Homo sapiens: one gene and its partners. The protein of the gene in region 1 binds, or shares a complex with, the protein of each later gene. Links are inferred from orthologs where the notes say so. Each region holds a gene or a part of one and is shown on either strand. Other genes may lie near its edges.

Evidence for each region.
Region 2: the proteins of PTPRG (region 1) and CNTN6 are in contact, whole or in part, in a crystal structure (PDB 5E5U), measured with the Mus musculus proteins. The link is inferred for Homo sapiens from one-to-one orthologs. Residues at the interface, in NP_033007.2 of Mus musculus: Val225, His226, His227, Lys229, Phe288, Thr290, Gln292, Gln293, Asp294, His295, Val296, Lys297, Ser298, Val299, Glu300, Tyr301; in NP_059079.2 of Mus musculus: Arg129, Val132, Arg135, Gln138, Gly139, Val140, Val141, Leu142, Leu143, Cys144, Gly145, Met222, Gly223, Tyr225, Glu226, Pro227, Lys228, Glu230, Leu252, Asn306.
Region 3: the proteins of PTPRG (region 1) and CNTN4 are in contact, whole or in part, in a crystal structure (PDB 3KLD), measured with the Mus musculus proteins. The link is inferred for Homo sapiens from one-to-one orthologs. Residues at the interface, in NP_033007.2 of Mus musculus: Lys222, Val225, His226, His227, Lys229, Phe288, Thr290, Gln293, Asp294, His295, Val296, Lys297, Ser298, Val299, Glu300, Tyr301; in NP_001103219.1 of Mus musculus: Thr128, Arg129, Ser130, Val132, Ser133, Arg135, Gln138, Gly139, Met140, Val141, Leu142, Leu143, Cys144, Gly145, Val219, Met220, Gly221, Glu222, Tyr223, Glu224, Pro225, Lys226, Glu228, Leu250, Asn304.

What each region holds. Positions count from the first base shown.
Region 1 is NC_000003.12:61,553,876-61,564,570, forward strand, and holds the start of PTPRG (receptor-type tyrosine-protein phosphatase gamma isoform 1 precursor), read left to right. Parts: upstream 1-7,695; 5' UTR 7,696-8,412; coding exon 8,413-8,497; intron 8,498-10,695.
Region 2 is NC_000003.12:1,395,063-1,405,376, reverse strand, and holds the end of CNTN6 (contactin-6 isoform 1 precursor), read right to left. Parts: intron 3,945-10,314; coding exon 3,832-3,944; intron 3,060-3,831; coding exon 2,891-3,059; intron 2,060-2,890; coding exon 1,959-2,059; 3' UTR 1,160-1,958; downstream 1-1,159. UniProt on the Homo sapiens protein: Contactins mediate cell surface interactions during nervous system development. Participates in oligodendrocytes generation by acting as a ligand of NOTCH1.
Region 3 is NC_000003.12:2,093,043-2,103,203, reverse strand, and holds the start of CNTN4 (contactin-4 isoform a precursor), read right to left. Parts: upstream 4,339-10,161; 5' UTR 4,226-4,338; intron 3,931-4,225; exon of another isoform or gene 3,040-3,930; intron 2,889-3,039; exon of another isoform or gene 2,647-2,888; 5' UTR 2,565-2,646; exon of another isoform or gene 1-2,564. UniProt on the Homo sapiens protein: Contactins mediate cell surface interactions during nervous system development. Has some neurite outgrowth-promoting activity. May be involved in synaptogenesis.

The DNA of each region.
Region 1 (10,695 bases):
GAGGTCTGGAGATTGAGACCATCCTGGATAACACAGTGAAACCCCGTCTCTACTAAAAATACAAAAAAATTAGCCGGGCGTGGTGGTGGGCGCCTGTAGTCCCACCTACTCGGGAGGCTGAGGCAGCAGAATGGCATGAACCCGGGAGGCAGCGCTTCCAGTGAGCCAAGATCACGCCACTGCACTCCAGCCTGGGTGACAGAGCAAGACTCCGTCTCAAAAAAAAAAAAAAAATTTTTGCCATAAGATGTGAGGTATAGGCTGAGGATTTTTTTTTTTTTGCATATGGATGTCCAATTGTTCTAATATGTTTTGTTGAAAAAAACTATCCTCACTATATGAAATTGCCTTTGCATCTTTGTAAAAATCAATTGGCAATATTATGTGGGCCTATTTGTGGGTTCTCTATTTTATTTCATTATTTCATGTATCTATAACTCCACCAATACCATATTGGCTTGATTAATGAACCTTTATAGTAAGTCTTACAGTCAAGTAATGTGAGGCTTCTAACTTCTTTTTCATAATTGCTTTGCTAGTCTAGTTCCTTTGCTTTTCTATATAAATTTATTATCACCTTGTCTGTATCTACAAAAAGTGGAAATGCACAAATGCATAGATTTATTGAAAATGTATATTTGACTATAATGTCATCCAACCCATGAATATAGTATATTTCTCATTTAATTAGTTTTTATTTGACTTATTTCATGAGCAGCTTATAGTTTTCTACATACTAATCCTACACATATGTTGCTAGGTTTATACTAAAGTATTTCATTTTGGGGAGTTTATCGTAAATGAGTTTTTTTGAATTTTAGTTTTCAATCTTTTGCTGCTCATATATAGACACAAAAATAATTGTTGTAGGTTGACCTTGCATCCTACAACCTTGCTAAACTCACTGGGAACTATGCAGATAATCATGTCATCTGTATAGGGGCAGTTTTATTTCTTGCTTTCTAATATATACGGTTTTTTTTGTTTGTTTTGTTGTCTTATTGTACTGGCTAGAATTTCCAGAATAATGTTGAATAAGAGTGCTGAGAATGTATTATTTACCCTGAGTGAGGAAAAAAAAAAAAAAGAGTGGTGAAAATGAATATCCTTGCCTTGTTTCCAGTTTTGGAAGCAAAGAATTCAGACTTGTATAAGTTTAGCTATGGGTTTTTTTTTAATAGATGTCCTTTATTATGTTAAGGAACCTCCTCTCTTCCTAGTTAACCGAGAGTTTTTATCATGAATGAATGTTGAATTTTGTCACATACCTTTTCTGCTTTAATTGATAGGATCATGTAGTTTTCTTTAATCTATCTTTAATGTAAAAGAGCCTTACCAGTCATATTTGCTATGACTATTTAATCCTTTTTTTTTAGACAGCGTCTAGCTCTGTCACCCAGCCTGCAGTGCAGTGCTGCAATTACAGCTCACTGTAGCCTCAATTTCCCAGGCTCAAGAGATCCTCTCACCTCAGACTCCTGAGTAGCTGGGAGTATAGCCACACACCACTAAGCTTGGCTAATTTTTTTTTTAAGAGACTGGGGTCTCACTATGTTGCTCAGGCTGGTCTTGAACTCCTGGGCTCAAGTGATCCCCCCATCTTGGCCTCCCAAAATGTTGGGATGACAGGCATAAGCCACCACACCCAAACTTAATCCTACTTGTTAAATAGTGTATTAAAACACCACTATATGGCCGGGTGCAGTGGCTCACGCCTGTAATCCCAGCACTTTGGGAGGCGGAGGCAGGCAGATCACTTGAGGCCAGGAGTTTGAGACCAGCCTAGCCATCATGGCGAAACCCCATCTCTACTAAAAATACAAAAAATTAGCTGGGCGTGGTGGTGCACGCCTGTAGTCCCAGCTACTCAGGAGGCTAAGGCAGGAGAACTGCTTGAATCCAGGAGGTGGAGGTTGCATTGAACTGAGATTGTGCCACTGTACTCCAGCCTGGGCAACAGAGCAAGACTCTGTTTCAAAAAAAAAAAAAATGCCACTGCATGTTCATTTTCTTTCAGCCACTGAATATAGGGCTTTTTGTAATGACAAAAGTTATTATTAGGGGACTTAAGAGATTTTCTATGGTTATATATATTTTCAGAATAAATAGGCTTTGCTAAGTCTTAAGTTCTTTAAAATAAACATTGCCTCAAAATTTAAAGTTAGGATGATTACAATGGGTTTTGTTGTTGTTGTACAAACATTCACTTGAGAAGTTGAAAGCCCAGTCACAAATGTGTTTTGTCTATACATGAAAACAAACGAAGGGTAAAAGGTAAATGGGCTTTGTATTTATTTCCTAGGGCTGATGTAACTAAGTACATCCAACTAAATGGCTTAAAACAACAGGAATTCAATGTCTCACAATTCTGGTGGCTAGAAATCTAAAATGAAGGTGTCATCAGGGTTATGCTCCCTCTGAAATCTGTAAGGGAAGTTTTTGCCTCTTCCTAGCTTTTGGTGTTTGCTGGCAATACTTGGTGTTCCTTGGCTTGTAGATGCATCACTCCAATCACATGGCTGTCTTCTTCCTGTGTCTTCCCCTCATCTTTCCTGTGTGCTTGTCTGTGTCTGTGCCCAAACTTCCCTTTTCTATGAAGACACCAGTCATATTCGATTAGGACCCACACTAAGGACCTCATTTTAACTACATTACCTCTGGAATGACCATATGTCCAAATAAGTTCACATCCTGAGCTTCTAAGGGTTAGATACCTTCTTTCAACATTACTTCACAATAATTCAACCCATAACAGGCACTACTCACTTTTAACAGTAGATGAAGTAGATTGTTTGTATAGAAGGCCACAAATTTCCTCCTACCTTTCTATTCATGTCCTTTTGCTTCCTGACTTTGCTGCTTCTCCCATCAAGAACTGGAGTCCATTTCCACCTCCTCTTGAATCTGCCCTGGCCTTGTCTTGCTTTGACCAGTCAAATGAAATGGAAGTAATTTCACACAACTACTAAGTCTAGGTCTCCAGGTGCCTTGCAATTTTCACTCTCACTCTCCTACCTGAGATCTTTTTGTAAATAAGTCTGAGACAGGCTGCTATAGAGATTAGTGGGTGAGGTCTGAGATGCTCCAACCAACAGCCAGCACGAATTGCCAGGCATTTGAGTCAGGGAATCTTAGACTACGAAGCCCCAGCTGAGCATCTGGATTCTGGTGCTATAGATGCATGAGTGACCTCACACAGAACCAACAGAAGAACTACTCAGCTGAGCCCACCCCAAACTTCTGTCCTACTGTTTTAAGCTACTACGTTTTGAAGTGATTTGTTACACAACAATAAATGATTGATACAGAAGAATGTTAAAAGCTTGAGTCTTCTGTTGTTTACAGTCTGAATTGCCTCAACTAAATCACTTAATTCTAACAGCCCCTGCTTCCTTTTTTGTAAAATGTAGATATTTTACTCATCTGTCACCACTGGTTCCAGGTTTCAGGTTTTCAGTTTTAATGAATAAAAACGTAAGGGATAGGAATAAGAGGAAATTATTAGCTCAAGTAACTGACAAGTCAAGGAGTTGGTTTGGCTTCAGGTATGACTTGATTCAAGGACTCAAATGAAGGTATCAGGGATTTGTTGGCCCCCACCTCTGTATTCTTTTTTTCTTCTTGTGTCAGATTCTCAGATGGGCTTGCCCCAAGTGAGGGCCCTCCTTGCAGTATGAGGTTTAAGTTGATCTGGCCTGGCAAACCTAAAAGGAAGTTTGACTTTCATTGGACCTACTAGAAATATGTGCCCATCCCTAGACCAGTCTGGTCAGAGGGATGAAATGCTCCATTTGGTCAGGACTAGGGCACGTGTCCACCTAACCCAGTGAAGTGGAGAGGTGGAGGTAGGGATAGGGGAAGAAAGGGTTAGGCTCACCAAGACCATCTGGGGAGACTGGCACAAAGGAAAACTGGGACACTATTACTAGAAGAAAAGAAATGGACGCTGAGCAGGTAGAAAATAACAGATGTTCACTTCTTATTACATAGGCTGGGTAAACAGATAACAGTAATAGCTTATACTTATTAAATGCTTATTAGGTTCCCAGCACTGATCTGAATAGTTTATGTATATTAATTCCTCTTATTCTTCTCTATTTAGGAAGATGTATGGTTATTATAGTATTCCTACTTTACAAATGAGGAAGCCAAGGCATAAAGTGATTAAGTTGCCTATGGTCATGCATATATGAGTAGCATCAGAATCTAACTAGACTGGCTTGAAAGCTACTGCCTTTAACCTCCAGTCTATATTCAAAATAGGTCACCAGCACTATGGTAGGCAGGATTCTAACATGGTCCCCAAGATCCCCAACCCTTGGCATATAATTCCTTCTTCTTGAAAGTGGGTGGGACCTGTGAACATGACAGGATAGCCACTCCCTTGACTAGGTTACATTATATGACAAAAGTGATGAAACGGTCACTCTCTAGACTCCTGTAGGAGGATTCTCCTGCTGACTTTCAAGGAGTAAGCTGCCATGTTGTGAGGGCGCCGTGTGGCTTAGACCACTAGTTGAAAGCAGCCCTTGGCCAACAGCCATCAAGAAAATAGTAATCTCAGTCCTACAACCACAAGGATCTGAATTCTGTCAATAACCTGAATGTGCTTGAAGGAGGAGCCCAAGCTCCAGATGAGAAAGCCTGGCCCATCCCTTGATTTCAGCCTGATGAGCCCTTGAGCAGAGGACCCAGCCATACTGTGCCCCAGCTTCTCACCTCTAAAAGTGACAGGCAATGAGTATATATTTTTTTAAGCTGCTAAATTTGAGGGTCATTTGTTACTAACGTCAGCATCTTCTCTTTGTAGCCTTTTTATCTTCCATCAGGGTAGCTAGGCTCTCCCTCCTTTGGCACTCCCAGGGCTTTTCACACCAACTTGCTCACTGTTATCATAGAGCTCCCATATCACCTGGGTTAGGATTGTAATTACCAGGTAGGAGCATGGCAGGGCTACTGCTAGGTCATTATTGTGTGACTAGCACTTGAAAGTGTCTATTATATATGAATCGCTCTGTAATTGGTTGCAGAATAAATGAAAAGGCATCTGTGATGTATGTTTGCAAAATTTTATCTTTTGTAGGAACTGGTGGGGCCTGGATTGTGCTTCCAAGGGTAGTTTGGGGGTAACCTTCAGCCTGGGGTCCTAGGACAGTCACCAGTCCATACCGAATTGGATGTGAAGTTTTAGCATGGGGCCTCCTACACTACTAAGGTAGTGGTAATTCACTCTGCAAACCCATATGAGGTTTTCCCCGACTCTGAAGCTCTTTTTTTACATTCCACATTTTGGTGCCTTCTCAAGCCATTATTCTGTTGCCTTGAATCACAGCTGTGGAGGCAAACAGGCCTGGGTTGAGAATCTCAGCTCTGCTGCCCACTAGCTGAGGATCCATCATTGTACTCTTCTGAGCATGTTTCCTTGTCTATTAAATGGGGAAAATAATTCTCACAGCTGGCAGTATTTTAAGAACTCCATGAGAGAACGGAGCATGGACTTAGGAAGGTATGCTCCCATAAGGCATGGGGGCTTGCCCTTTTTGTTCGAGGCTGTGTTCCCAGTGTGTCCCTCAAACAGTAGGTGCTCAATACATTTGTTGAATGAGCAAGCAGTTTATGGCATGAATTCAGCACAATGCCTGGTAGACAGTAAGCATTCCACAAAGGACAGCTTTTACTGTCCATTTCACAGAGGAGGAAACCTCACCTGAGGACGCTGACACAAGTATTTGACGAGTTTTTCCTATTTTATCACTCGACATTAAGAAGGTAGTCAGGGATGCTGGGGTAATCTAACTTGAGGAACGAATATCCCTCATTACAACACTTCCAAGAAAAATGGCCCTCGCAATCCTTTATAAAGAAGTCAGGATTCCAATAAAACCAGGAAGGACCACATTCCAAAGCAAACAAACTCGCCTCATTCCCCACCCTGGGGGAGGGTGTTCACCCCCGTTCTGCTAAAGATAGAGCTAGGGCCCTCCCCAGGAACTTCCTGGCTTTTATTAGTTTGTAATCCCATACGTAACTTTTCAAAGGTTTTTCTTTTGGAAGTGTGGGTGTGAAAATGCTTCCTTAATCACATCGAACGGGAGGATCTCCGACCATCTGTACTTTATTTGAAAACCTAGCATCCGGTTGGGATGTTTGGGTGGGTGGAGGACCCTGCCGTGTTGGGATGAAACAGCAGGGACACGTTTAAAACACAAGAACCATGCGCGGTGGCTCACGCCTGTAATCTCAGCACTTTGGGAGGCTGAGGCAGGCGGATCACAAGGTCAGGAGTTCGAGACCAGCCTTGCCAAAACGGTGAAACCCCGCCTCTACAAAAAAAACCAAAATAAAACAAAAAACAAACAAAAAAAACCACCAAAAAAATAATCAGCCGGGCGTGGTGGCGGGCGCCTGTAGTCCCAGCTACTCGGGAGGCTGAGGCAGGAGAATCGCCCGAACCCGGGAGGCGAAGGTTGTAGTGAGCCGAAATCGAGCCACTGTACTCCAGCCTGGGCGACGGAGCGAGACTCCGTCTCAAAACAAAACAAAACAATCCCACGTCAAGATCGCTTTGAAACACAGGCAGAAAAATTAGGCAAAAAATGTCAAACGGCTAATTACCTTGGCTCAGTTACACATTTACTCGAAAGCCCGCCTCCCCCACTTTTAGCCCCAGCGTTAAGAATGTAAAATAGGGCGCTTAGAAGTCTAAGCGATAAAGATCTTCTTACCGAGAGCCAAGGGACAAAACTCATTACAGATAAGCCTAGTCCTCCCATTTCCCCCGGACGCCTCTCCCCGATTGCTAAAGAAGCAGCCGCTCCCCGGGTAGCTGCCAGGAAATCAGTCCGGCCCCGCGGCGCTGCTTTCACCCTGCAGGGTGTAAGAGGCGCACTTCCTGCGCCCTCCCCGCGGCCAAACCGGGGTGCGGGAACCTTCTCCAGAGAAGCTGCGAGTTGGGGAAACTCCGCCACCGATCCATCGTGGCGCCGGGAAAGGGGATGCGGGGCTCGGAAGGGCTAGATTTCGCAATCCTGGGATCGACATTCCTCCCCTCCCCCACTTTCCCCAGCCTTGGACTGGGCCAATGAAAGCCCGAAAAAGAAAAAAAAAAAAAATTAAATCTCAATGTAGCCGGAGTGCAAAGGCCGCTCGGCTTTGTTTCCCGGCGGGGGAATGCGCTGTGTTGGAGGCGCGAACAGGAGCCGCAGACGGTGAGCCTCACCGCTGCAAATGCCAGGGCAGTGAAGCCGAACAGAAAACCCCATCGCTTTAAAAAGGCAGCTGTCCGCCCTCCCCCTTTCCCCTCGCCAGGGCGAGGGGCCCCTCAAGTCCGGGATCCGCGAGCTGCGCGGAGGATCTCGCCAAACCCGAGCACCGTGCGGCGTCTTTTAAGAGCTCGAACAACGGGAATCCAGCAAAAAACAAGCCGGCCCCAGAAGGCAGCCTCCCTCCTCTCTCCGCGCACGGGCTACAATCGCCCCCAGTCCCCAAACTGTCCCAGTAGAGGCCGCGCGGAGAGAGCAGAGCCGAGGGACCCAGCGCAAGGCGGGAGCCAAGCGCGGCTGCTTTAAGAACGCGGAGAGCGCGCGCCCGCCGCCAGCTGGCCCGGGCTGCGCGCCCCCGCCGCCACCGCGCGCCCCCTGTTCGCTCGCTCCTTCGCTCGCCGGCTTTAAAGTCTCTGCCAGGATCCATGCTCACATGTTACTTCCTGTATGGAGGCATGGCCAGTTTCCAGCCCCGCGCTCTTCGTTCCTTCCCAGCCTGCGCCGGAGCCACAACTTTCAGGAGCATGGACTGAAGGCGCCCTCGCCCCAGCGCCCCTCTGAGATCCTTTGTGTTTTCCTCCGTTTCCTCCGGCCGTTTCTATTTTGGGGGGCTCTCCGCTCCCCCTGCCTCTCCCCTCCCCTTCCCCTCTCGCAAACATGCCTCCTTCCTTCCCGGGGCCCTGGAAGGAGCTGCCTGCCTGAAGCCCGGAGACGCCGCGCCGCGCTCAGCCCCGCCGCCGCCCGCCGGCTCTCGGGCTGTGCTGCGCTGCCGACTCAAGTTGGGGATCCTCGGCTGCTCGCCGCCGCCGCCCGCGGTCCCTGCCTGCCCCAGGCCCGGGGCATCGCCGCCGGCCGCCGACTCCGCGCCCTGCCCGATCGGCTCTCTCCTTTTTAAACGGAAAGCAGCCTTTCTCCGCCGAGAGGATCGTCCCCAGCGTGGCTCTGCGTTCCCGGTCACTTTTTGAGATTTTCCGGGGGGCGCTCGGCGGCTTCCCGGATTCCAAGGGGACTCGGGCCGCCGAGCGCGGGGGGCCCGTGGAGCGGGCGAGCCGGGGAAGCGCCCCGGCTTAGCGGAGGCTCGCACGGAGGCAAGAACTTATTCAACAAGTTTACCTCCCTGCTTTCCTCTTTTCGATGTGCGTTTTCGGACATGCGGAGGTTACTGGAACCGTGTTGGTGGATTTTGTTCCTGAAAATCACCAGTTCCGTGCTCCATTATGTCGTGTGCTTCCCCGGTGAGTGCCGGCCGCCGAGGGGATGCGGCCCCGGCCGGCGCGCGTTGGGGATGCGGAGTTGTCGCCTGGGCGCGGAGCTCCGGCGCCCGTCCGGGAGACCCTGGAGAGGGTGGAGGGTGGCCCGGCGCCCGGATAGGAGAAAAGGATTGCTCCGCTGGCTTGGATGATGTTTAGGGAGGCAGGCTAGTGGTCGAGGAAGGTGGAGGCAGGGGCTGGCCGGGGAGGGGGCTGGGGGACGCGGGGGTCTGCTCCCGCTCCCTTTTGGGGGTCCTGGGGAGCTGGAATCGGGAGAAAGGGGGACTTGCTTTGCTGACTCGTCGCCGATCGGGAGAACTCGAGTTGTGGGGCGGTTGGGGAGACTGAGGCCATGGAAAGGATGCTTCTGTGGGTTTGGGGGGCCCGGGATGAGCCCCCTCGCTCTGGCGGGTATTGAAGGAACTCAGAAGGTGGGGGTTTGCTTTGCTGTTCTCCATCCCTTTGGGAGGGCTAGGTTTCGGGGAATGGAAGTCGGAGGCTGGCTGCGGAGGACTGAGGATGTGTGGGGAGCAGCCTGCGTTCTGGGTCGGGGGCGTCCTCCCTCTCTCTGGGGGCTGGGGCGCGGGCAGCACTTCGGTGCCGGCGTGAGGCAGCCTCCTTGGGCGCAGTGAGACGGCAGGGCGCAGGCGGTTTCGGAGAGATCCGTGTCTCCCCTAGCCCCGGCCCGTGGCCCTTTCCCTCCGCTGCTCTGCTCGATTGGATTGCCTGGGTCTGGACGCGGGGAGGGGGCGGGGGCGGTTTCGGCGGCCGGGGCGGTTTCGGCGGCCGGGTTGCTGTTCGCGCCGGGGCTGATTTTTTTCCTGTCTCGCGCGCCCTGCCTACCTTCATCTTTGCCCTTTTGCAGGCTGTTCGCGGCTGGCAGACCCAGTCTCGCTCCTTTCTGGCCAGGTTAAGACAGGAACAATACTGGCCGTTGATAAGAATAAATCACCGCACGTAACGGTGTGCGGCTCGGCGACCCTCCACTTCCAGCTCTCAGCTGGCAGTTCCCCCTCCTCTCTCCCCTGGGGAGGGCAGAGGCCAGCTGCCTCCCTCTCCTCTCTTGCAGGTCCCCCGGGCAGCAGCCCCGAGCTCCCTCGTAGCTGTCCCTTGGGGTGGAGGCCAAGTCCTGCCCTAGCCCGGGGAAGGGCTGGAAGAAGGGGTGATTTGCTTTTCATCCCTCGCTCCCCTAAGGACAGAGAATTCCCCGTTTTTCTGCCCTCTCATCCATCAACTCCTGCATACCCGGAGGTGGAGGTTATCTGAATCAAGAAAAAGAGGAATGTGCCCCGAGGTCTCCGCTCTGCCTGGTTACAGACGCCTGTCCTCGGGCGGCTGGAGCGCCCGTTTTTGGTGCAGCGGGTCCCTTAGTCCCGTCGTGCGACCCGGAGCAGGGCGCGCGGGAGCCCTCGTCGCCCTTGGGGATCCCCTCGGGGGACTGGCAGCGAATGCCCCCTTTGCAGAATCGGGGATGGCCTCGAGGGGCAGAAAGGGAAAACACCGTCTGGTATTCTGCACCCCCTTTTCTCTCTGCGCATCCTCCTGCCCGCGGAGCGGCACGGAGCTCCAGCCCAGAAACGCAGCTCGGAGGCCGAGCTAGGACGTGCGTCCACACTCACCCTGGGGTTTGCCCACTGGAGTCCTGCCTCTACGGTAGGACACTGGGGCCTGGGGTTTGCCCACTGGAGTCCTGCCTCTACGGCCTCTACGGTAGTGTAGGCCATGGGGACATCTCCCCTTAGAAACAGCTGCCTTCATTCACTAAAAGATCACTGCTCAGTATTTGGGTTAATCATCTCTCCTTTCTAGTCTCCCCTGCTTTACCACGGACTTGACGACTGAGCGGGCTCAGGTGCACACAGGGGTTGAGCTTTGTGAGGGCCACTCTTTAATGGGTGCAGTGGGAGGTCGTGGAGGGCTGCCTTGCAAATTAGAGGAATTTCCAATTCCACTTCTGTCCTTCTTGCGCTCGGGGATGCAGTCAGTGGGCTGACCGTGGTTTTCTTTTCCCTGGTGTGTGAGGAAGCTTGAGATCCAAAATGGGACTGCCAGGGAACCAGCCTTCGTGGGGCTTGGACCATTTTCGTCTTCTCATTTTCTTTTCGCGCCCACGCTGCGAGGTAAATAGCCCCTTTCCTGGTCCGGGAGCCGAGGGGTGTGGGAAAGGGAAAGGACAGTGGTGG
Region 2 (10,314 bases), about 60 Mb from region 1:
ACATAACACTCTATTGTTCTGATATTAGTGAAATGGAGATGTTAAAAGAAATATGTCCAAGTTTTCACTAAGAGGAGAGATTCCTATCGCACCAAAGCCCATGCTGCTTATTATTAATGCCAAAGTATATTCTGAAAAATTTAGTGAACTGATGAAAAGATAAATAATATGTTAGATATGTTAGACAGTGAATACAGACATTTAATATTCCAGAAATCATGAACTAAATAGTACTCTGCAAACATATAAGAATTATTGATAAAAACTAACTTAGCTTTTGAACTCACACACAAATGACTGTATATCTGATTCACTTAATTAGTAGAAACAAAAACCTCACAGTATTTTTAACCCTCAATGTCTTCTTTGGGGAGGAGGACACAAATCTTGTCTCTTACCAAATTAAGGAAACCATTAAGACCATGTGCCAGCACTGGTATCTCTGGTCAATTCAGATGTATCTTGGCCAGGCAGCTGTTAACACGGGTGTGCCAAATAGTATTTGTTGTTGCTTATTTGTTTTGCTCTACAAAAGCACAGTCAGATCATATGGCAATGGGGAGAATAAGGCTCATTAATTTGCATTGTGTGCTTGACACACTGTTCAGGCAAGGAGCAAGTTCTGAACTATGAAAGCCATTGTTCATCTGCTGCTGACTACATGGGGTATTTTAAAGAGTTCTAAAATACCTCAGACATGCAAATGACAAAATCCCATATTGAGGATTGTATGATTTGAGGGTTGTGAGAATAGCTCAAATATTCTCAACATAATTAAGAGGTTGCACCATGTTAAGAAGATAAAAGTCACGTGAGCATTTCTCACATTTAGCTCTAAAGGACAACAAACCTGACTGGCTGGGAGCCAGAGAAGGCTGACAGCAGGAACTGACCTCTCAAGGCTGTTTGTGGAGGAAGGGGGGTGGTTACATAGCATTCTATGGGCCAGGTCACTAATCTCACCTTCTCCCAGACTGCTTTCTCCAGACTACACAATCCTAAGAAGTGAGGTCACTGACTGAAACAGGCTCACCCTAGAGAAAAGTCAACCCACACAATCTTTCTAAACCCTGGTTCATGTAGAATTGTTTTCATAGCTGCAGAGAAGATTGGCAAAAAATAATATTTTGACCAAAGTGTAGAAAACTTGATCAAATAATTCTGTTTCCACATTGTTTTATTATAAAAATAAGGCCACATACATTGCAATCAACTTGTCATAATTACCTGAGATTTGTTCATGCAGCAGTTCAAATGTTCAACTTTGCCATGAGCAATTGCTTAATATATACCAGAGTTGTTAGAAGATTATTTTAGGTGGGTGCTCATTTCCCATCATTTATTTTTCTTTGCCATAAAATACTTTTTCTGCCTTTATTGTGACTGAATCTTCTGAAAAGTGGGCTGAGAAGAACATCATGTATATTGAAATATTCTTGAGTAAAAAGATTTCTTATTCCAACTTGATTCAGAGATAAAAGCACCCCATGCTTTGGAATAGTTTGTATTTTTAAAGAATCCCAACTATAAACAAATAATTGTATTTTATTTTGAAGTAGGGTGGAAATTTTAAATACTGAAGTGATTGTCTGGAATACATAAAAATGTACATGTGAGTTATGGTAACTAGGAGCCAAGTTTGTATTCATCATCAGCATCATTGAGGGGAGTTATTTATTTTCTCCATATAAGTAACTTAAAAGACACAGCAGTTACAACTCCCCAGGTTAATGTGGCACCTAGGAATTCATGTAATCATGTGCGGATTTTAAAATTCAAAAGTGTTTAAAATTGTTTTATTAATATACCATAGATATTTACAGGATTTTAATAATATACTTTTTTTTTTCTTTGCAAACAAGTCTGTATTAAGAACGCATCTTGTGTCAGAGGCTGGAGAGCATATATACAGAATGATTTGCTTTCAAAAAACTCTCAAAGATTTATGGTTTTATTCATCAGATAAGTGGCTGAATAGCAAAACAGTGAAAAATCACAATGACAATGGAAAGAAAATGGGTGCTAGGTTCTAAGAATTGAATTCCTCTGGAACTCAAACCTGCAAAATATAAAAATAAGACAAAAATATTTTGAGATAAAGTATTGCCTGTTAGATTAATTTTTCAAAACCCCAATTTCATACTATCATTTCTCTTCTAGTAACATATTTTATTATACTTGTCTCATTCACATTATATTTAATTTTAGAAAGTGCCTTACCGTGTCTTTGTCCAAGGACATCTGATTTAAGTATAAAAATGCAAAAGGAAAATCCCTAAATTGGCAAAGTCTGCCTAAAGGATTGGCCAACATTGGATGCTAATGACTTGCACTCAATCACAGCTTCAGGCAGATGAGTAAGTGATTTTTCTAATGCAAAAATGATACATTATTATTGCCTGCTAACTCTGACTGACTGGTGTTGGTTGGCTTAGAAAATTGTTTTGAGGAGGACTTGAAAGTTGTGACTCAGCTCCTTATGAAAGCCACACTTGATTAGTGATGTCTGCCATGAACATGGGAAAGGGTGTATATTTACCTGTGCTTCATATTTGCCATTCCTGTTGTAAAAGACCCGAAAGAATCTATGAAAAATCTTTCTGATTTTTGTGATAATAGAATGAGTGATACAATTATGCTCTAATGACACAAAGATTTTTTTTCCTGTTCTCTTTTTGGTTTTCAAATGAGGAAGCATAAAACCATTTATAGTGTATGTTATAATTTTGGAGAATAACTTAAAAAAATGGCTCATCACCTTTTGCTCACAATTGAAAATTTATCTTATCACCCAACATTTAAGCCATAACTGGAAGGTTTCATGGAGCTGAATTTCATGCTGCAGCTGTCTAGGTTCAGAATCTACTACAGCAATGGTGACTCAACTTACTTGACATTTTTGGAATCCTAATTTCCTCACTGCTGCTTCCATCTCCACCATCACTGACTGTTCTTATTTCAATTAAGTAGTCTTCTTCAAATGGAACCAGAAGCTCAGCTGATGTATTGTTTGTTTCCAAAATATGAGTTTTACTCTGTCTGTTTTGCCGGTACAGAATCTGAATAAAATGAGGTATCAAGTTAACATGGACATGTTGCTTTTCTAAGGTTCACACAACTGTTCTGGAACACTGTAAGACATAAGATACATCATCATAAATGTTGTACTCCTCAGATGGAAATATCCAAGTGATGTCTTTTCCTTATATTCCATTGCTCCTGTTAAGAAAAAGAGGTGTTTTTTTTTTTGGCCAATGCCTCTGGAAGGAGAGTAGATTTATCCCTATTAGTTAAATAGCTTGAGGCTATTATCATTGGAGCTTGCTGTGGAAAGTCACTGTTGAGTTTGGACCCATTTCAAATGTTGAATATATGTCTGCCAAGAGATGATGTCCATTGTCACTGATGGAAATGAGTTGCTCTGGGTACTTGATTGTACTCTTGTTAGATGCCTTTTATGTTGTTAAAAGATCACATCATACTGCAGCCTAAGTTCTAAAATCTCTATTTAGATATATTTTTTGATCTCATTGTCATCACATCTACTATGCACATAAGCCATCATCTTATGATAGCAAGGGATGCCACTTGAAGAAAAAATGTTACATCCTATGGAATTTGATTTATTGATGTTCCCTAATACATTACTGGACCTTGGAATGTAAAACATTTTCAATGGAAAATTAGAAAGCAGCAATGGTATTTTCAAAATAATTTTGAAAAAGATTCCAGTGTTTCCATATGCATCCAATTTGTTTTCCATTTGGGTGTCACATGTTTCATTCCTTAGTAACTTAATTGATATGATTAAAGGAAAAACTAAAAACTCACCTTGTACCCCAAAACTTCAGACTCATTTTCCATGGTTTTTACATGCTCCCAGTTCAAGCATAATTTAGAGTTTGTCAGCTTCCAGGCAATGTTTGCTGGTGGTTGGCTTGGAGCTTTAAAGAGATAATCAAAGATCCAAATGAATGTTAATTAGCTCATGGTCAAAGTATGATGCATCAACATGAAAAGAAAAAATAAGTCTTCGATGATTTGCATAGAAGGAGCTAAAATGTCTTCAGTGTCATTTGAAATATATTAATTCTAATCACAGTAAGCAAATTTATTCAAATCTGGTCATTTGGGAATGCCTTTGTGACAGACTTATGAATTAATAATGGCTTGCTGCATGTCCAGTATTAATTTATTAATCATTGCTGTTGAGTTTGTTTACTTTATCATATATAAACAGACAGAGGGTCTCTTTATCTAGGATTCCATTTGGCCATCAATCAATGAGCATGTTTGGCAAATTCAAGTTGCAAACATTTTATATATATCAACACATAGATGTTCATTCCTAAAATTCTTTACTTTTTAACATTGTATTAGTTAGCTTTCTAACTGTAACACAACTAACTCAAGATATTTTAAGCAAAATATTTGTAGTAAATTATCAAGGATATTTCTTATAAGTCATGGCAGATTGCAGCAGAGTCTGAGGAGAGAAAAAAATGTCACAAAGCCACAGTCTTCACTCTGCTTATTGAAGCAGGGTCTGCTGTATACTCATCTTGCCAGAGAGTACCTCTTTGTCATTCTCACTGCACACGGCAGAAATCATGACTGTTCACCACACCTGAAACTTAAAACCTCCTCTGTTCAGAGATAGTCCAAGTTTGAGTTCCCCTGAGAAAGCTGATGATTGACTTCATTTGGTCGTATGTCTATCTTAGCTTAATCAACTGTGTCTGGACAATGTGAAAGATGCATGCCGTTTAAAATAAATGGAGCTTTTGGGAAGCCAGAAAAGGGGAAAATCATCACAAACTGATTGATCATCCCAAAGGACATCAACTTTAAATCCAAACTGCGACTTTTAGTTTTCTGAAATTAATGTTGTCTGCGTGAGAGATGGTGGGAGATAAGAGATGAAAGATTTAGAATCTGGCTTCTAAAGTAATGGATATAGTCCAACTAGAGAATTTTACATACAAGAAAACGAGAATCCAGGTTGGGAAGTCACTTATCCAAAAGCATGCAGCTGACGAATCTTGGTCTAGCGCTTTCAGTCTAGTGTTTCTGCAGAACAACTTGCTGCTTATCTGAGTCCACATGACTATTTTTGAGATTGAAACTGGAGAGATATAAAATAATTCATCTGGAAAGTGGAAGTAAAGATAAAACTGCCCAACAAGATGTTTTTGGCATCTCTTTTGAATTTGTGAGGCTGAGTGAGCATAATATTTAATTCATTATAACACTGGTAGAAGTGGAAACTATTTCTTTCATAGTTTTGAGTCAACTGCTGTTTAATCTCCTGTGTGTCACTGGAAGATTCACATATTGCTGAATCCAGGTGTCTCAAATATATTACCATACATTCTCTTTCCACCCCACTTCCACTGGGATATCACTATTGTTCACTCAATCACTTACAGTCCAGTTGGGATGTGATAGAGAAATGTTTCCCTGTATGCTTACATGAGGCTTAGTTCATATTTTATTATAGGTTTATCACATTGGTTTACATTTATTCTTGGTTATGTGTTTGTTTAAATTTCTTGAGGGCAAGTGCCTTACTCAACTCTGTATTACTAACCCCTAGCACAGTGCCTGGCACATAGGAGACATCCAATTCATACACGTTGAATAAATGACTGTACAATAAGGTGGCTAAGGAAAACTGTTCAGGGCCCTGTGGTGATCTTCTCAGGCTGTATTGATTATGCACTGGGCTCTGGGCAGATCCATAGGTGACACAATACAGCCAATCCATTCATTATGTTGTCCTATGATCAAGACCAATTGCCGTGGTCAGACTCATAGCAATCCATACCTATTTATAAGATGGACAGGCCAATTGGATTGACCATGTCCTGGTACATTTCTTGACAATATAAACCCATAATTAAAGGCCTGAAAGCTTTTAGCTTACTAAGCATCCATTACTTTGCTTGTCAATGTACAACGTACTTGTCATTTATAATGCTTATCAACATATTTATTTCTAAAGGTCTGAATGGCAGCAAGAATTATTTTGTAACTATCCTTCCTCAACTTATCCTCCAGTGCCTTTTAAAATCTTTTTCTCAGCTATAAAAGATATAATATCAAAATTCTCACAGGATATTGCAATTTTAATATCTAGTCTACTCTTGATACCTTTCTTTTTATCTCTGTTCTTTAAAATTCAGCACTAACATTACCATTATATAATCAATACAGAGAAAATACAAATTCACCACTTCAGTGTCATTGGCAGTGTGGATTCTGAATGTTTTATGTATTTCCGGATGTTTTGTTTGTTTTAGGAAAAAGTATTGTTTTCAACACTATAAATCCATTGAAAAAATCAACTGGCTAGGAGACAGAATTGATTTCTTCCAGCTATGTAAAGGAGCAGTTTGCAATGTTGGCAATGACTTTGTCATTGACATGTTTGCATTTGTGTCCTCATCTACCAAAGCAGAAGCACAACTTTCTGTGGGCATAAAACGAGAAGAGTTGCATTCGGAGTGAGTACCTTGGTATGAATAGCCAATTATACAGATTATTTAGAATGTTTTACTTCTCTTGCTCTCTGGGAGATGAGAAGAGTTGGGCTTTGATGTCAGAGAGACTTGAATTTGTATCCAATCTCTTCCAAGAGCCGGATTTTCCCATTATAAAATGAAACGAATAACTCCTAATTTATGAGATATGAAATAAAATATGAAATATTCCTCATTTGGTTAGTGGTATATATTAAAAAGCCCTGTAACTGTTAATTCTCTTCCAAGAGTAGCAGTTCTCCACTGTGGTGTTATGACATAATCAATTTTTCAGTTGTGTTCGAAGTGGTTTGTTGCTAATAATCCAACTCTGAAGTTTGCAAATGATTCACTTCTTAGATACAATTAGTGTACATTCAAGTTTTCCCCTTAATAATATTGCTCTTACTTGGATGCTTGATATGTTTTTAGAAAGGGAGATAAAATGGGAGAGTCTCAGCTAATTATCTTAGAATATCTCTTAGTCTACATCCTTTCTTATTTTTATCAATGGATGTTTCTCCAGTGTCAATCCTTTATGTCTGATATTGACAAATAAAACTTCTGAAAGCTGCTTTAGAAGGCCATCACCTTAATGTGAGTACTGTTAACAGTTCTGGTTTGATATAGTTGATTAAACTGGATTGCAAATATCTATGATAAAATTAAAATTTCTATCATCTTGAGAAACCAAAACACTGCCACATGGATAGCACAAAACACATGTCATGATATTTGTACCAAGTCTGTCAATGGTAAACTCAGCAAACAAGCACTTTTCTAACTTTTAAAATCTTTCCAGGCAATTTCCAAAGACTAAATCATTTTCTATTAATCAAATGACAGAGCAACATTAAACTAGCCCCTCAGAATTCTAATGGTTTCCCTGTAATCAATTTTTCTGTAGATGGCATTTCTTTTCAACTGTAGTTCACACTGTGAACTCAATTCAAAAACAACTTCTTATGTTACACCTCTAAGTAACAGCATGGGGTTGACATTTGGGCAGAAGAGAAAGAACATAAGTGCAAGATAAAATAAAAGCTTAATGCTTCCTTTATGTTTAAATATGGATTGATTGCATATTTGCAGCAAGAAAGAATCGAGTACAAAGTGCTAGTCAGTCAACGTCAAGGGCCAAATTGAGCCAACATTTGCAAACACTTTTAGTTATTGCGTCTGAATACTTCTTTCCACATAAGTAGTGTTTTGTTTGTTTCACTTTTCTTTTCTGCTTGGAATTGACATAAATATTTTTCTTTCTTTCCTTGTAAATCTAAATTCCATTTAAGTAATGTCTGTGTGGATCACAGTATATTTGCAGTACCTCTGTTTCTTTTGGAAATCCATCATTTCCACTAGGCTTTGGTACTTGCAGATGAATCACTGATATTTGTTTAATAATACTAGTATCATCATCATCAACAGCAACAATAATACTTAAGAAGTTTGGCATATGCTGTTCCTTCTGTCTGGAAGTTCTTTTGTCCTTTAACTCCTCTTTATCTTTAATTTTGTATCAAAATACATAGCCTATCCCATATAGATGCTCCTTATGTACATCTTAGTTTCTCATTTATTTTCTTCACTGTTCTTTTCATAATTTATGATTATTTTATTCATTTGTCTTTTTTTCTTGTTTTAGGTTGCCTCTTCTCTAAAAGAGAAATTGCCGGTTGGCAAAGATCTTGCTTGGTTTAATTGCTCTTAGGCCCTCAGCATCTAACTCTAGGCATGGCTCATGGGAGGCACTATCTCTTGAGTAGATGACTGGATGATCATGTGAGAAAACAAACAAACAAAGAAAATACCTCTGTCTTCTCTTTAGCTTAGCCAATTAGAACAGGCAGAGATTTTGGTAAATGTGAGCTCTGCTTTTTCAGACTTTCCAATGGAAGATCAAATATCAGATTACAAATCTAGACAGTGACAGTGCTGAATGCAGAATTTTTTCAGTCACCACTATTGAGAGGTAATCTTGATGTCATCTCAAGGACATGGAGAGTCAAAGTTACATACAGGAATAGCACCTGGAATCATGGTTATCATCAATGTTTCAGTAAAGCTGTTTTTCATGCATGCTTTGGATGTCCTTCTACGACCCTTAAAGAAAAGAAAATTCTGCAACAAACTTATAAAGTGAAAGAAAGTAGCTGTGGTTTCTTACTTTAAAAAATGCAAAGAAAGTAAATTGCCTCTAAAGGAGGAGTATAATAACACATGTTACCAGGCACTGAGCCTTGATGTATGACAGCCTCTGGGTCACCTTGGTGTACATTATATCCTTTGGTTCTCAGAGAAATCGCTAGAGGTAAGTATCTTCATCTCTATTTTTCAGATGAGAAAATGCATTCAGAGTTATCAAATAATTAGATCTGGCACACAGATAGTACATGGCTGAGCAGGGATCCATATCCACAATTCTCTCTGAAGTCCCATTCCAACTTTTTCCAACACTGTTTCACAATGGGCCAAAGTTATTGGAATTCTTAGAAAAACGCAAATACATTAAAGGGGAAATTTTGGGGGAAGCTATAGAGCAGAAAAAAGACCATTTGACCATATATAGGCCTGGCAGGGGTACTACAAGCTGAGAGATTTCATGAAGCCAGGTAAGTGAATGTTAAACTTTAGAAGATCAGTAAGTTTGAGATGTCAGGGCTAGAAGAGGAATGTTATAGAAAGGAGCTTTGAGACACATTGTGAAAGATCTTGCTTGCCTTTTTCTTAGTCTACATTCTCTGGAATAGAGGAGACAATGACATTTGATGAAGAGAAGAGAAGTATGACGGCATTTTAGGAGGAAAAATTTCAAAGCAGTTTGAGGTTTAGATGGAGGATTTGACAGTCAGGGAGAGAAATTATTGGGATGGTTAGGGAGGAAGGTGATAAAGGAGCACAGTGGTAGTGGGATGAAGAGATTTCATGCTCATCAGTCTAACAGAGGCCATGACAAAACCTTTCTAAGCATTTGTGTCCTCCTATCTAGAAATTAAAATACCAAACTCCTTGACTTATTGTAATAATTAAGTGAGATTTAGTATGATAAAGTTAATACAGGGCTGGGGACATAGAAGTGCTCAATAATTTGAAACTGTGGTAAGCAAAATAAGGATCCCCCAAAACATGATCACATCCTAATCTCCAGTACCTGTGGACACATTACTTTATATGGAAAAGGAGTTTGCAAATGTGATTAAGAGTCTGGAGATGAGGAAATAATCTTGGATGATTCAGGTGGCTCCAATGTCATCAGGAGGGTCCGTACAAGGGAAAGAGGGAAGCAAGAAAGTGAGAGTTAGAGGAGTTGTGATGACAGAAGCAGAGGGTCAGAGGCAGAGATGTGAAGGTACCCTACTGTTGCTGGCATTGAACATGGAGGAAGGGGTCACAAACCTAAGGAGGGTCACAAGCCAGGGATATGGGTGGTCTCCAAAAGCCAGAAAACAGGAAACAAATTATCCTTTGGAGCTTCCAAAGCTAGTGCAGCCCTTGAGCACATCTGGATTTCTACCCAGTGAAACCCCTGTCTAACTCCTGACCTCCAAAAATGTGTGATAAGCAACTTATATTGTTTTAAAACACTGAGTTTAAGGCCATTAATAGAATAATAGAAAAGTTACTCTTCTGCTTTCACAATGTCTGTGATGTAGAATGTCAAAGTAATAAAATGAGAGGTTGGATAGGTATTTAAATGCAAAGGGATGGAGACTTGTATATTCTTCTTATTCTCAGGTGCTTGTTGGCTATTTTTATAGGGTCACTGAAGCATACAGGCTGGTAAGAGTCAAAT
Region 3 (10,161 bases), about 59 Mb from region 1:
GGCAAAAGCAAAAAAAAAAAAAGCTGTTAAAAAATCAATTCTGGAGTGAGAGAACCTGGTTCAGATCCCAGCTCTGCTACTTACTAGCTATGATGAACAAATAACTTAATTTCTCTATGCCTAGTTTTCCTCATCTGTACAATAGAGATAATATTAGAAGGGCAAAGTAGGGCAATGTGCTTTAAAAAGTATCTCAATAATAGTAAGCATTATGTATGTATTAACTGCTTCTATTATTATTTATTGTATCCATTCCAGTTTTTCTACCAGAAAAAAAAAAAAGCAAGGGTTAGGAGAAGAAAAGGAAGTAACAGTTATTGAACATGGAAGAAATATCACATATAGTAATAAAACATCAGAGAATGCTAGTTGTTCCCCCAACAATTTCTTCTACTTCCTGGATAACATTTCTAGACTATATTTCCCAGCCTCCTTAATAGTAACGTACATCCACAAAGAACTGGGTTCTGGCCAGCACAATGCAAGGAAAAGTAATATGCACTCATTCCAGTTCTGGGCAATTAACATCCTCCCAAGTCTTCCTCTTTCCAATGGCTTGATGCAAGTAAGCACAGTGACCCTGCTGAAGACGGCAAGGGCACAGAACAGATGAAGGCTGGGTCTCTGAATCACACTTTGAAGGAGTACTGCCATGATCACCCATTCTGGGACTTCACACAACCGAGAAATAAATATATTTCACATCTGAGGCAGTATCCCTTTTGGATCTGTTATATCTGCTAAAGAGCCAATCTAAAAGAGCCAAGCTCTTGACCCATGTTGACTCATGCTCTCATGTTTAATCCCTATCGTGATGCCGTGAAATAGATGTTATCCCAATTTTATACCTAAAGAAACTAAGGCTCACAGAAATTAAGGAACTACATTGCCCAGGACTGTAAATGTAATAAATGATGGTGCCAGACTTAGATTCAGGTTAATCTGCTTCAAGGTTTATGAACTTTCCAGCCTCCACACAACACTGCAATGTGGAAAGTGTCCTTCCAATCCTCCCTCATTTACTCCTTGGATTCTTCACTTCCTGACCATTGGTACTTAGTCTTTAAACTAAAACTCCATTTTTTAAAATTCACCTGTATGTCTACTTTGGGAGATCTAAGATGACATCTCCAAAACACATTCATCCTTTACACCTCATTCTATCCACATATGAGTCCATGAGAGGAAAACAAGTGTGCTTAATCTATTTGTTACAGAAGATATAGAAGTGTAGCAGTTTTACAACTGGCTAGAGTATCAGAGATGATGAACAGCAGAGCAGAGATAAGGAGAGAAAGATTTTAAAAATATCAAACCAGCAGTGATCTTTAAAGTGTGCTACACACCCCAGGGGCTGTACAAAATGATCCACCGGGATACATAACAGCAACATGAGACCTTCTATTTCATAATTTTTGCTTTATTCATCTTTTTTGTTTCTTTGTGTGTTTTATAAGTAGTGTATCATATAACAGCATGTCTTCAGTTTATAAATAAATTTTATTGATATGTTGTCAGATTTCTTCTGATAGTAAATAATAATAATAATGAAGATCAATAAATCTAGGCAGTAAATCCTGCCTCCTTGCCTCCTTCACTAGGCTTAAAACATAGCATTACAGGGAAAAATGAACAAAAAGGAACAAAAAAAATCAGTGTGTAGAGACTTCCCCCTGCCTATCATATGAAATAGACTTATTCAACTAAAATAATATAAAAGCAAGTTTTTACAAAATATTAATTTTTAAGATAAGAGAGATTGAAGCTAATGCATATTATGTCTGTCCTCAAATATAACAAAGAAGAAACAACAAGTTAAAATCATGATCAGACAAACTTGTAGAAAAGTCAGTACCATGCATGGGAATTTTCTGCTGAGCAGCTTTATTTTTTTAAGACCTAAATTGAAGGAACGGATGCCCTGTATACATTTCAGAAGAAAAACTGCAGCCAAAAGATTTAGTGCTTAGATCGGAAAAGAAATCAGAAGACCTACTTTTGAACAAAAAGGAGAGAGAAGTAGGTAAAATAAGTGAATGATAAAAAATCCAACATCATTTGAAAGGTTTGTTCTCTAATCACTCTTAATTACCTGCCAATATGAAATGACCATGGAAAAAGGTACTGCATTGACTCCCAATTGACTTGAAAAGTTTTACAACTCAAAGAAACTGAAAAGTGTTGTTTAAAAAACTGCAAATAGGAAAATCTACCTCTGTTGAAACTTACATGTGGCTCTGACATGCACCCTTATCCAAGTCACTTCTCTTAGACTCTTAGTCTTTAATTGAAAAGGTCAGTTTTTCCATCCTTGCCAGCTACCTCCCAGGGTTCAGATGGAAAAATAATGACGTTTATCAGCATCATCTCTCCTCAACAAGACAGAGCAGTTGAAACCAGCTTCAACAAACAAATCAATAGCTATTTTATAAGGTAGCAAAAATAATATTCTCATGAAACTTGTTTTTGATCCTTAGCAATCTTACCTACTCCTGCGACCCACTGCAGATATTCCCACAAAATCTTTAAAGAAATCAAGATAAAAATAGCAAGAATAAACTTACGGGTAACGTGAATTTTCTCATGAATGCCACCCAAATCACCTCCAGGTGCCTGTCTTCATGACACACTGTTCTTTTTCACCCACTTGGGTAGAGAGAGAGAAAGAGAGAACAAACTTGCTATTAGGCAGACTTGGGAACGCTATTGTATGGACCTGCTCATAGGCAACCTATACAGTCTTTACGCTCCTACCCCACTCTCTAAAGGACATAAACCAGAAATCTCAAAAAACAAAAAAATACAAGCGCGTTCCAAATTATCTTGTGTGGGTATCCAAACGACTCAGTTATGTGGAGTTACTCCTTGAACTATCCAGCTCCCACTACAGAAAATTGAAAGAGCTTCCCATGCAGTTAAATGCCACTGTTATTCTGACAAACATGTGCCCGCCCCTATGTTGATTCCAGCAGGAAAACTAGAAAAAGTTCCACGACATTCCTTTCAGGAACTCCTCTTACAAATAAACCTCCAACACACCTCAAGATCCGGCCCACTCTCCTCCACGCAGACCACACACCCAGGGTGCTCAGTCACACTGACTCGCCCTACACAACCTCCGCCAGCTTCTTCGCACCGAATCTGCAGACCCTGGCCAGCAAGCAACCGCCTGATCTTCCCGACGCGCGAAGCCGCCTCCTCGCAGGAGCTTCGCTGCGAAATGTTTCCATGCAGCCGACTCTCTGGCTGGTTCAGAGGGATTCAGGAGCCCACGTCCTCCTACCCTCACCTCCACACCCTTCATAAATAGTAAAACATATACACGAAGCACAAGAGAGAAAATGCACGAAGATTTTGAGCCCCGCGTTCCAGAAGGAGAGTGAGTGGATTGGGGTCTGTGGGGCGCCCGGCGCACAGTTCGCCGCCGTCTGGGCCCGGGGAGGGGACGGGGCGGTTGTCTTGCCTCTCGAAAGAAACTGGAAACCCCCCAGAAGTTGCTGGAAACGAATGCCACCCAACAGGCTCCCGCGGCAGAGACTGGGGAAGCCAGGTACCTTCCCTAAGAGCAGGCACCTGGCCTGTCGCTCGCCGCCGCAGCCTCAGCGCTCAGCAGCCAGCCCGGCACCCAGCGGGCGCCACAGACATCAGCCTCCGTCTCCACGCGGCTCCTTCCACCACGGCTACGGGCTCCTGTTCCTTTAGTCCCAGGTCCCTCCACTCCCCAGGTTCGCGTCCCTCTGCTGCGGGCTGTGACTGGGCTGTCAGAAGAAAAGCCCCGCCGGGAACCCGGCGCCAGAGGCCAGGGCGCACGGAGAGGGGGCAGTAGCCCGAACCAGTCGGAGGAGCTGACTTGAAGGCTTCCCGCAGCATTCCGGGCTCTCGGTTCCTTGTTTTGTGGCTGCCTCGCAGCGCAACAAACTTATTTTCCGGCTGAGAAGGAGAAGAAGGGTCGCTGTGGGGTGACGGTGGCGTCGTCGGGGCCCTGAGTCCTCCGCGCTCAGGCGTTCAGCTCCCGCTCCCCGACCCTGCAGGGCTTCCGGGCTCTGAGCTGGACGGCCCCGCAGACGCTGCCCGGCCCCGCGGGAGTCAGAGCCCCGGGAAGCGCCCCTGTCCTTCGGGCAACCCGCGCGGACCCTGCCCTTTCCCCCCCACACCCGCGACCGCGTCCCCGGGGCATCGCGCGCCCACGCAGGAGCCGGACCCGCACAGCTGCCGCCTCACTTACCTCAGCACCGGGGCGCCGGGCTGGCGAGAGCCTCGGGTGCGGCGCCGGCACAGTCCGAGGGGCCCGGGGCGGCGGCGAAAGCTCCCTACTTGCAGCCAATCCTGGCGTCGAACCCCGGGCTCCGTCTGGCGCGGCGCTGCCCTCCCTCCCGGCGCTCGCGGCGGCTGGAAAAACCTGGCGCGCCGGAGTTCGGGCTGCCGGCTCCTTAGCCGCGGGGCGGGGGAGACGCTCGGGGAAGGGGAGAGGCGCGGGCGGGTGGGAACGGGCGGGAGACGAGCGGGGACGGGGAGACGCGCCGGAGGCCCGGAGCCCGCGCATGCTCAGTGCGCGGCCGGAGGAGGCGAGCGCTGGGGACGCAGCACCTGCCCCGCGCGGCCGAGAGGCGGCAGCCCCAGGTCCCCAGCGCGCGAAATTAGTAAAGGGCGCCTGGCCCGATTCTCAGGCAAGAGGAGATTATCAGCCGGATTCCCGTGCGGGGACGTAGGGGTTGCGTTGTTCAGCGGCCAGGGATGCGCCGAGGCGATGTCTCCTCCCTTTACAACCCGAGTATCGGGGCACGAGGAGGCGCGACCTTCCTGGGTACCCAAACCTCTGGCCTCCGGGAGACGCGGAATTCGGGGGATCGTTAAGGCGCCCTGGCCAGGGAAACAGATGCTTCTGCGTCTGGGCTGAAAATTGCTGAACCGGGGAATGTGGGTGGGCGGGTGGCATTGAACTTAGGCCAGAAGAGGGGGCTTTGGTAGGTTTTTACCTGCCTGTCCTTAGGCGGAGGACACTGGCTGGACAGGCTGCGTTACACACCTGAAGTCTCATCCACGCAAAGTGCTTTCAGGTTGGAATGTGGGGCGGGGGCGGGGGGAGGTCAGAGGGAACAGTTGCTGTAAATTAGGTACAAGGATCAATTTGTGGTGTGTTGTGCGCGGGGGTGGGGCATGTCGAAAGCCTTGTTATTCGAAAGAATGTGCTTTGAACGACGTTGCCACGGTCATTCTACATTATGAATCTACTGTTTCCTTGCAGAAGTGGCTCCCTTCGCCGCAACTCCACACCTCGGGGTAACCGTAGAGATTGGCAGCAATGCCCCAGCCCCTCACCAGCACTGTGCAAAGTGACTTTGACAGGCAGAGAAAAGCCAACCCAGTCGAATTCGTCTGGAAAGCATTCCAGCAACCCAGAGAGGAGCCTCTGTTTCTCTCTCTGGGAAAAAGCCCCAAGGGTTTTGCTGAACCCAGGTCTTCCTGCTCATCTCTCAGCAGTTCAGAGCTACATAAACAACTTCTGACCATTTACGCAATCATGTAAACCTACCCTGACATCTCCACTATGTGGAAAAGATGTTAACTGGAAAACTATTTTTAAACTACTGCAGTAAGCAAATAAACATCCAACTCCAACATATATATGCAGCAGCCTTATTAGTTCATTCAGTGTTGGTTTGGTTTGTTTGTTTTGTCTTCTGCTTTTTAGAATTAATTATTATCTTTATAATTCCTGTTCGAGAAGTGGGCAAAACCAGGCTAGTGATAGGTATTGTTGTGGTCAAATTTTTCATCACTTGAAATTCCATGACTTTCATGATTGCTGAGATTAATGCTAAATAAAGAAGTTACCCCCCCGCCCCCACCCCACCCCAACCTCCCCACCAAAGTTTCCTGATTACTTAAACTTGGAGAGAAATTTTCAGGCTTTTTCCTCCCTCCTTGCCTGGTATGTGTCTGTAATAGAGGTACTTTTGCAAAACTGGAATGTTGGTGATGCAGGTGTTTTCCATGGTAAACAGCCACTGAGGATCAATGGTTCCCAGGTTCCCACTCACTTTGAAGGCTTTTGTGCTTCTGCCGGAACTGTGACTTTTACTACCTGTACTATGTATGATTTTTTTTTACATTGATTATTTCTCTGCAACTAGTCAATTAAAAGTACATATATATAACTTTTAGTAAGACTGTTTATCAAAATATGCTTCACCAGAAGTTCTCCAGAAAATATTCCTGTGTAGTCATGCATACTCCTAACACATTAAAGGGAAATGTCGTGTTTTAGACTGGACACAGAATTTCAGAAAAGAACAAAGAATAAAATATGCTGTCACATTCTCCCACTGGGACTATACATTGAAGCAATTTTCAAAGTTTTATGACAATTTCAGGCAAAGTCCCTTAACTGTGTTTCTAAATTTCAAATGTACATATTTTGTTTCCATTCTCCCCTTTGGCCCTTATTCTGTGCCTGCTATATGCTAGGCATTGTCTTCTAGTAGATTCTGGGAAACAAACTAAACATGACCAAGACTTGCTCCACAGTTCACCATGTAGTTAGGAAAACAGACATTGTGTATCTGGAGAGACAGATTTGGGTCGTGTTGAGGGGATATCAGTTAAACGTTAAGTTAGGAGGAGGCATTTTTTCTTTTCACCAACACACCCCCACACTGATCCAGTGCTAAGCTTGTTCAGTCCCTCCCCAACATTTTCTCTAGAACAGCAGCTAGTTTAAAATGCAGCCAATAATCCAGTCCCTTTTTTCCATCCTGCAGCAAAGAAGCGATGCTCAGCTGCCACCTCTGCCAAGATAGAAAGCCTCTTGCGGAAGCTCCCAGGATTGGGGAGTGTTCCTAATAGACTCAACCCCTGTCAGGGGACAGAAATGGTTTATTTTGATGACAACAGCCTCACACGTGTGTCTCTACATATCCAGGACCCCGACTGCGTGTCCGTTTCTTGATCAGGGGACCTGTGATTGGGATTCTCTGGAGGGGAATGTTCCAAACGAATCAATTAACGCCCCCAGCAGCAAGTTCAATACCACTGCACTGAGACCCAGCTCTGTATCATTGCATGAATGAATTACTGGTGCTCATGTAATTTGCAAATAATCATCATTCTAACACAGTGGAAAATTTCTCCTGCCCGTTTAGCCTGAGTAGCAGCTGAGCAGAGAGCTGCAATAACCCTCACAACACCCTCCAAAATAACTATTTACACATATGTGAAGTTTTACATCCAGGTCTTTTAATATGGGAGTATCTACATAGACACAAGGTCACCTCTTACACTCATTAAACCAATTGAATGAGGACTGATAACTCTTAAGGGAAATCAACGCTGAAACCGCTTTTGACTTTTTGGAGACATGAATGGAATACATCATCAGGTTTTACTCAGCATGCAACCGTTGTGCAAACTCCAGAAAGGGCATCTCTCTGTCCCACTCCCCCATTACCCCTGCCTTATTCCTTCTCTACACATCTGAAGATTTGATAAGTGGGGATTTACTGTAAGAGGAGGAAAGAGGAAAAGCATCACAGGAAAAGAAATACCTCTTTTCTGACCACATCTGATTTGATGCTATTTTCTCCTTACTCCTGGCATCCAGTGGGATTTTAAAAAACTCATATATGCCACCTTTCTTTGTTCTAAATGACTTGAATAAGGTCGTTCAATGGCAGGAGCGACTCAATCAGATAAAAATGTGCAGGTTTTATAATTACGGTTTTACTTGTTTAATGTATAGCTACCTGAATAGATCTTCAAGCATAAAGTAGCAATTATCCCATCCCTGATTTTAAAATATAAACTCAAGTTTGCTTTAATTAAGTAGATAAATCAGTATTTAAATAAACAATTGTATCAAGAAGAGCTTTGTGTTCAGTTTCGAACTGGAGTATAATAAAGTAGAACTCAGCTAAGGACTTTCAAACCAGCCTTGCAAAGCTTCCTTCTATGCAATTGTTTTAGGTGACTGATTGACACTTAAGCTTTAAACTAAGGACATTGGACTAATAATGGGCCCATACTGGGATAATGATAATTAGCACACAAAAGCACAGTTAATTGCCATGAAGGTTGGACACAGACTGACAGATAGAGTCAAAGTAAACTAGAAACCTGACACCCCAGCCAAGATTCCTTTATAAACGTGGCTGTGAGACACCCACTGAATTTAAACATAATAAGGTGGAATTAGGGACCAATCAACTGTTTTCTTAGCCACACGTTTTCCAGATTTTTTTGGATTCTTTATACAAAATCCAAAAATAATTGTTCCAAAGGTCTATTAGTTGCAAAAGTATTTATAGTTGATTTCTGATGTCCTCAGTAATTATGTTCTATAAAGTCACTGCAAACACTGGAGACAATAAAGGGTTATGTTCCTGACAGCCTCTGGTAACAAGATTTTCATCAACTGATAAAGATACCTTCTTTAATATATACTGTTGATTCATTAACATAGAACTCATGGCCTGCAGCACTGTAATTCTTGCCTGAACAAAACTTATCTAACACATGTATTTTCTCTGTGAGGCACATCACAGCTTTCTTTTGCTTAGGAATGCTAGACAGCACTCCAGCACTGTGCTCGAGGCCATTTTAAGCAGCAAAATCACCAACAGAAAAACCCAAAATTTGAGAAACATGCACTAAATATACTGCAAAAAGGAGACTTTTTTAGAATATGAGAGCTGAAACAAGAACACAGAGCATCACTTTGTTTGATCTAAGCTGGGAATGTGTGCATTGGGCAACTACAATTTTTATTCTCTGTGCATCTACAAATACCTCTGTGCGTCTACAAGTGTCTACTCAAGTGCCTTAAGTATTGACTTTGGAGTTATAAGTAAATTTCAGTAAGTGGGCAAATTCACAAATATGTTATCTGTGAATAATGAGGGTCAACTGTACCAAATGTCTCCTTTAAACGGCCACATCCGCCCATATGGTATGCGATTCAATTTAGAGACATTCAATTTATACAGAATTCATCAAATCATTTATCTTTTCATCTTATCCTAAACAATTTACATTGTATTCACATAACTGTAATTACATATTTTCTTAAATATTTTCATTTTGTTCATGTTTTTAATATCAGTTTCTTCATATTCAATGTGTCCTGAACTTTTCTCTATCATTCAATAGTTATATATCCCCTCACTTTTAAAAGCTGCTTAATATTCCATTTCAGAATATACTACAGATAATCAGTTCTCTATTGTTGAGCATTCAAGTTGTTTGTGTTCTGCTATGATAAATAACTCATTGATAAATACACTGATGTTAAATTTTACACACATTTTAAATTATTAACTCAGAATAAATTCCCAGAACTTGATCTACTAGGTCAGAAAGGGTATTAGTCCATTTTCACACTTCTAATAAAGACATACCAGAGACTGGGTAATTTACAAAAGAAAGAGGTTTAATTGGACTCACAGTTCCACGTGGCTTGGGAAGCCTCACAAGCATGGCGGAAGGCAAGGAGGAGCAAGTCACATCTTACATGGAGGGCAGCAAAGACAGGAGAGAGCTTGTGCAGAGAAACTCTGGTTTTCAAAACCATCAGATCTGGTGAGACACATTCACTATCACAAGAACAGCATGGGAAAGACCTGCCTCCGTGATTCGATTGTCTCCCACTGGGCAGCTCCCGCAACACATGAGAATTATGGGTGCAGACAGGGAGTCAAACCATATCAAAAAGTCTTGTGACTTTCCTCATTCATAATTATTAGATTCTTTCTGGTAGATATCCATGATCAACAATTAGAGGTAATGAGGGCTCTAGGCCTCATCCTCATCACCCTCAAAATAATGTAGTAAATTGTAAGAAGAGATAATTCAAGGCTAAATTCTGCACACATAACAACATAGCAGACATTAAAAAGCAGCTATTCAAACTGTAAGCTCAATAAAGTCCCAACTCCTCTGTCCTTACAGTTTCTCCAATAGCCTTTTGAATCAAAGATTCACCAGAGGCAAATGCGACAATATTGCAAGGGCAGGATTCAATTAAAGTCTTACTTGGAGTCAGGCAAAAAAATCCTCTGAAAACTGCTCAACACAGAACTGATCGGAATCAAAATCACAAAACATCATTCCTAAGATTATAAGTTATTCGGCTCACCAGATTTTCCTTCTGTGCTATGCAAGGGCAAA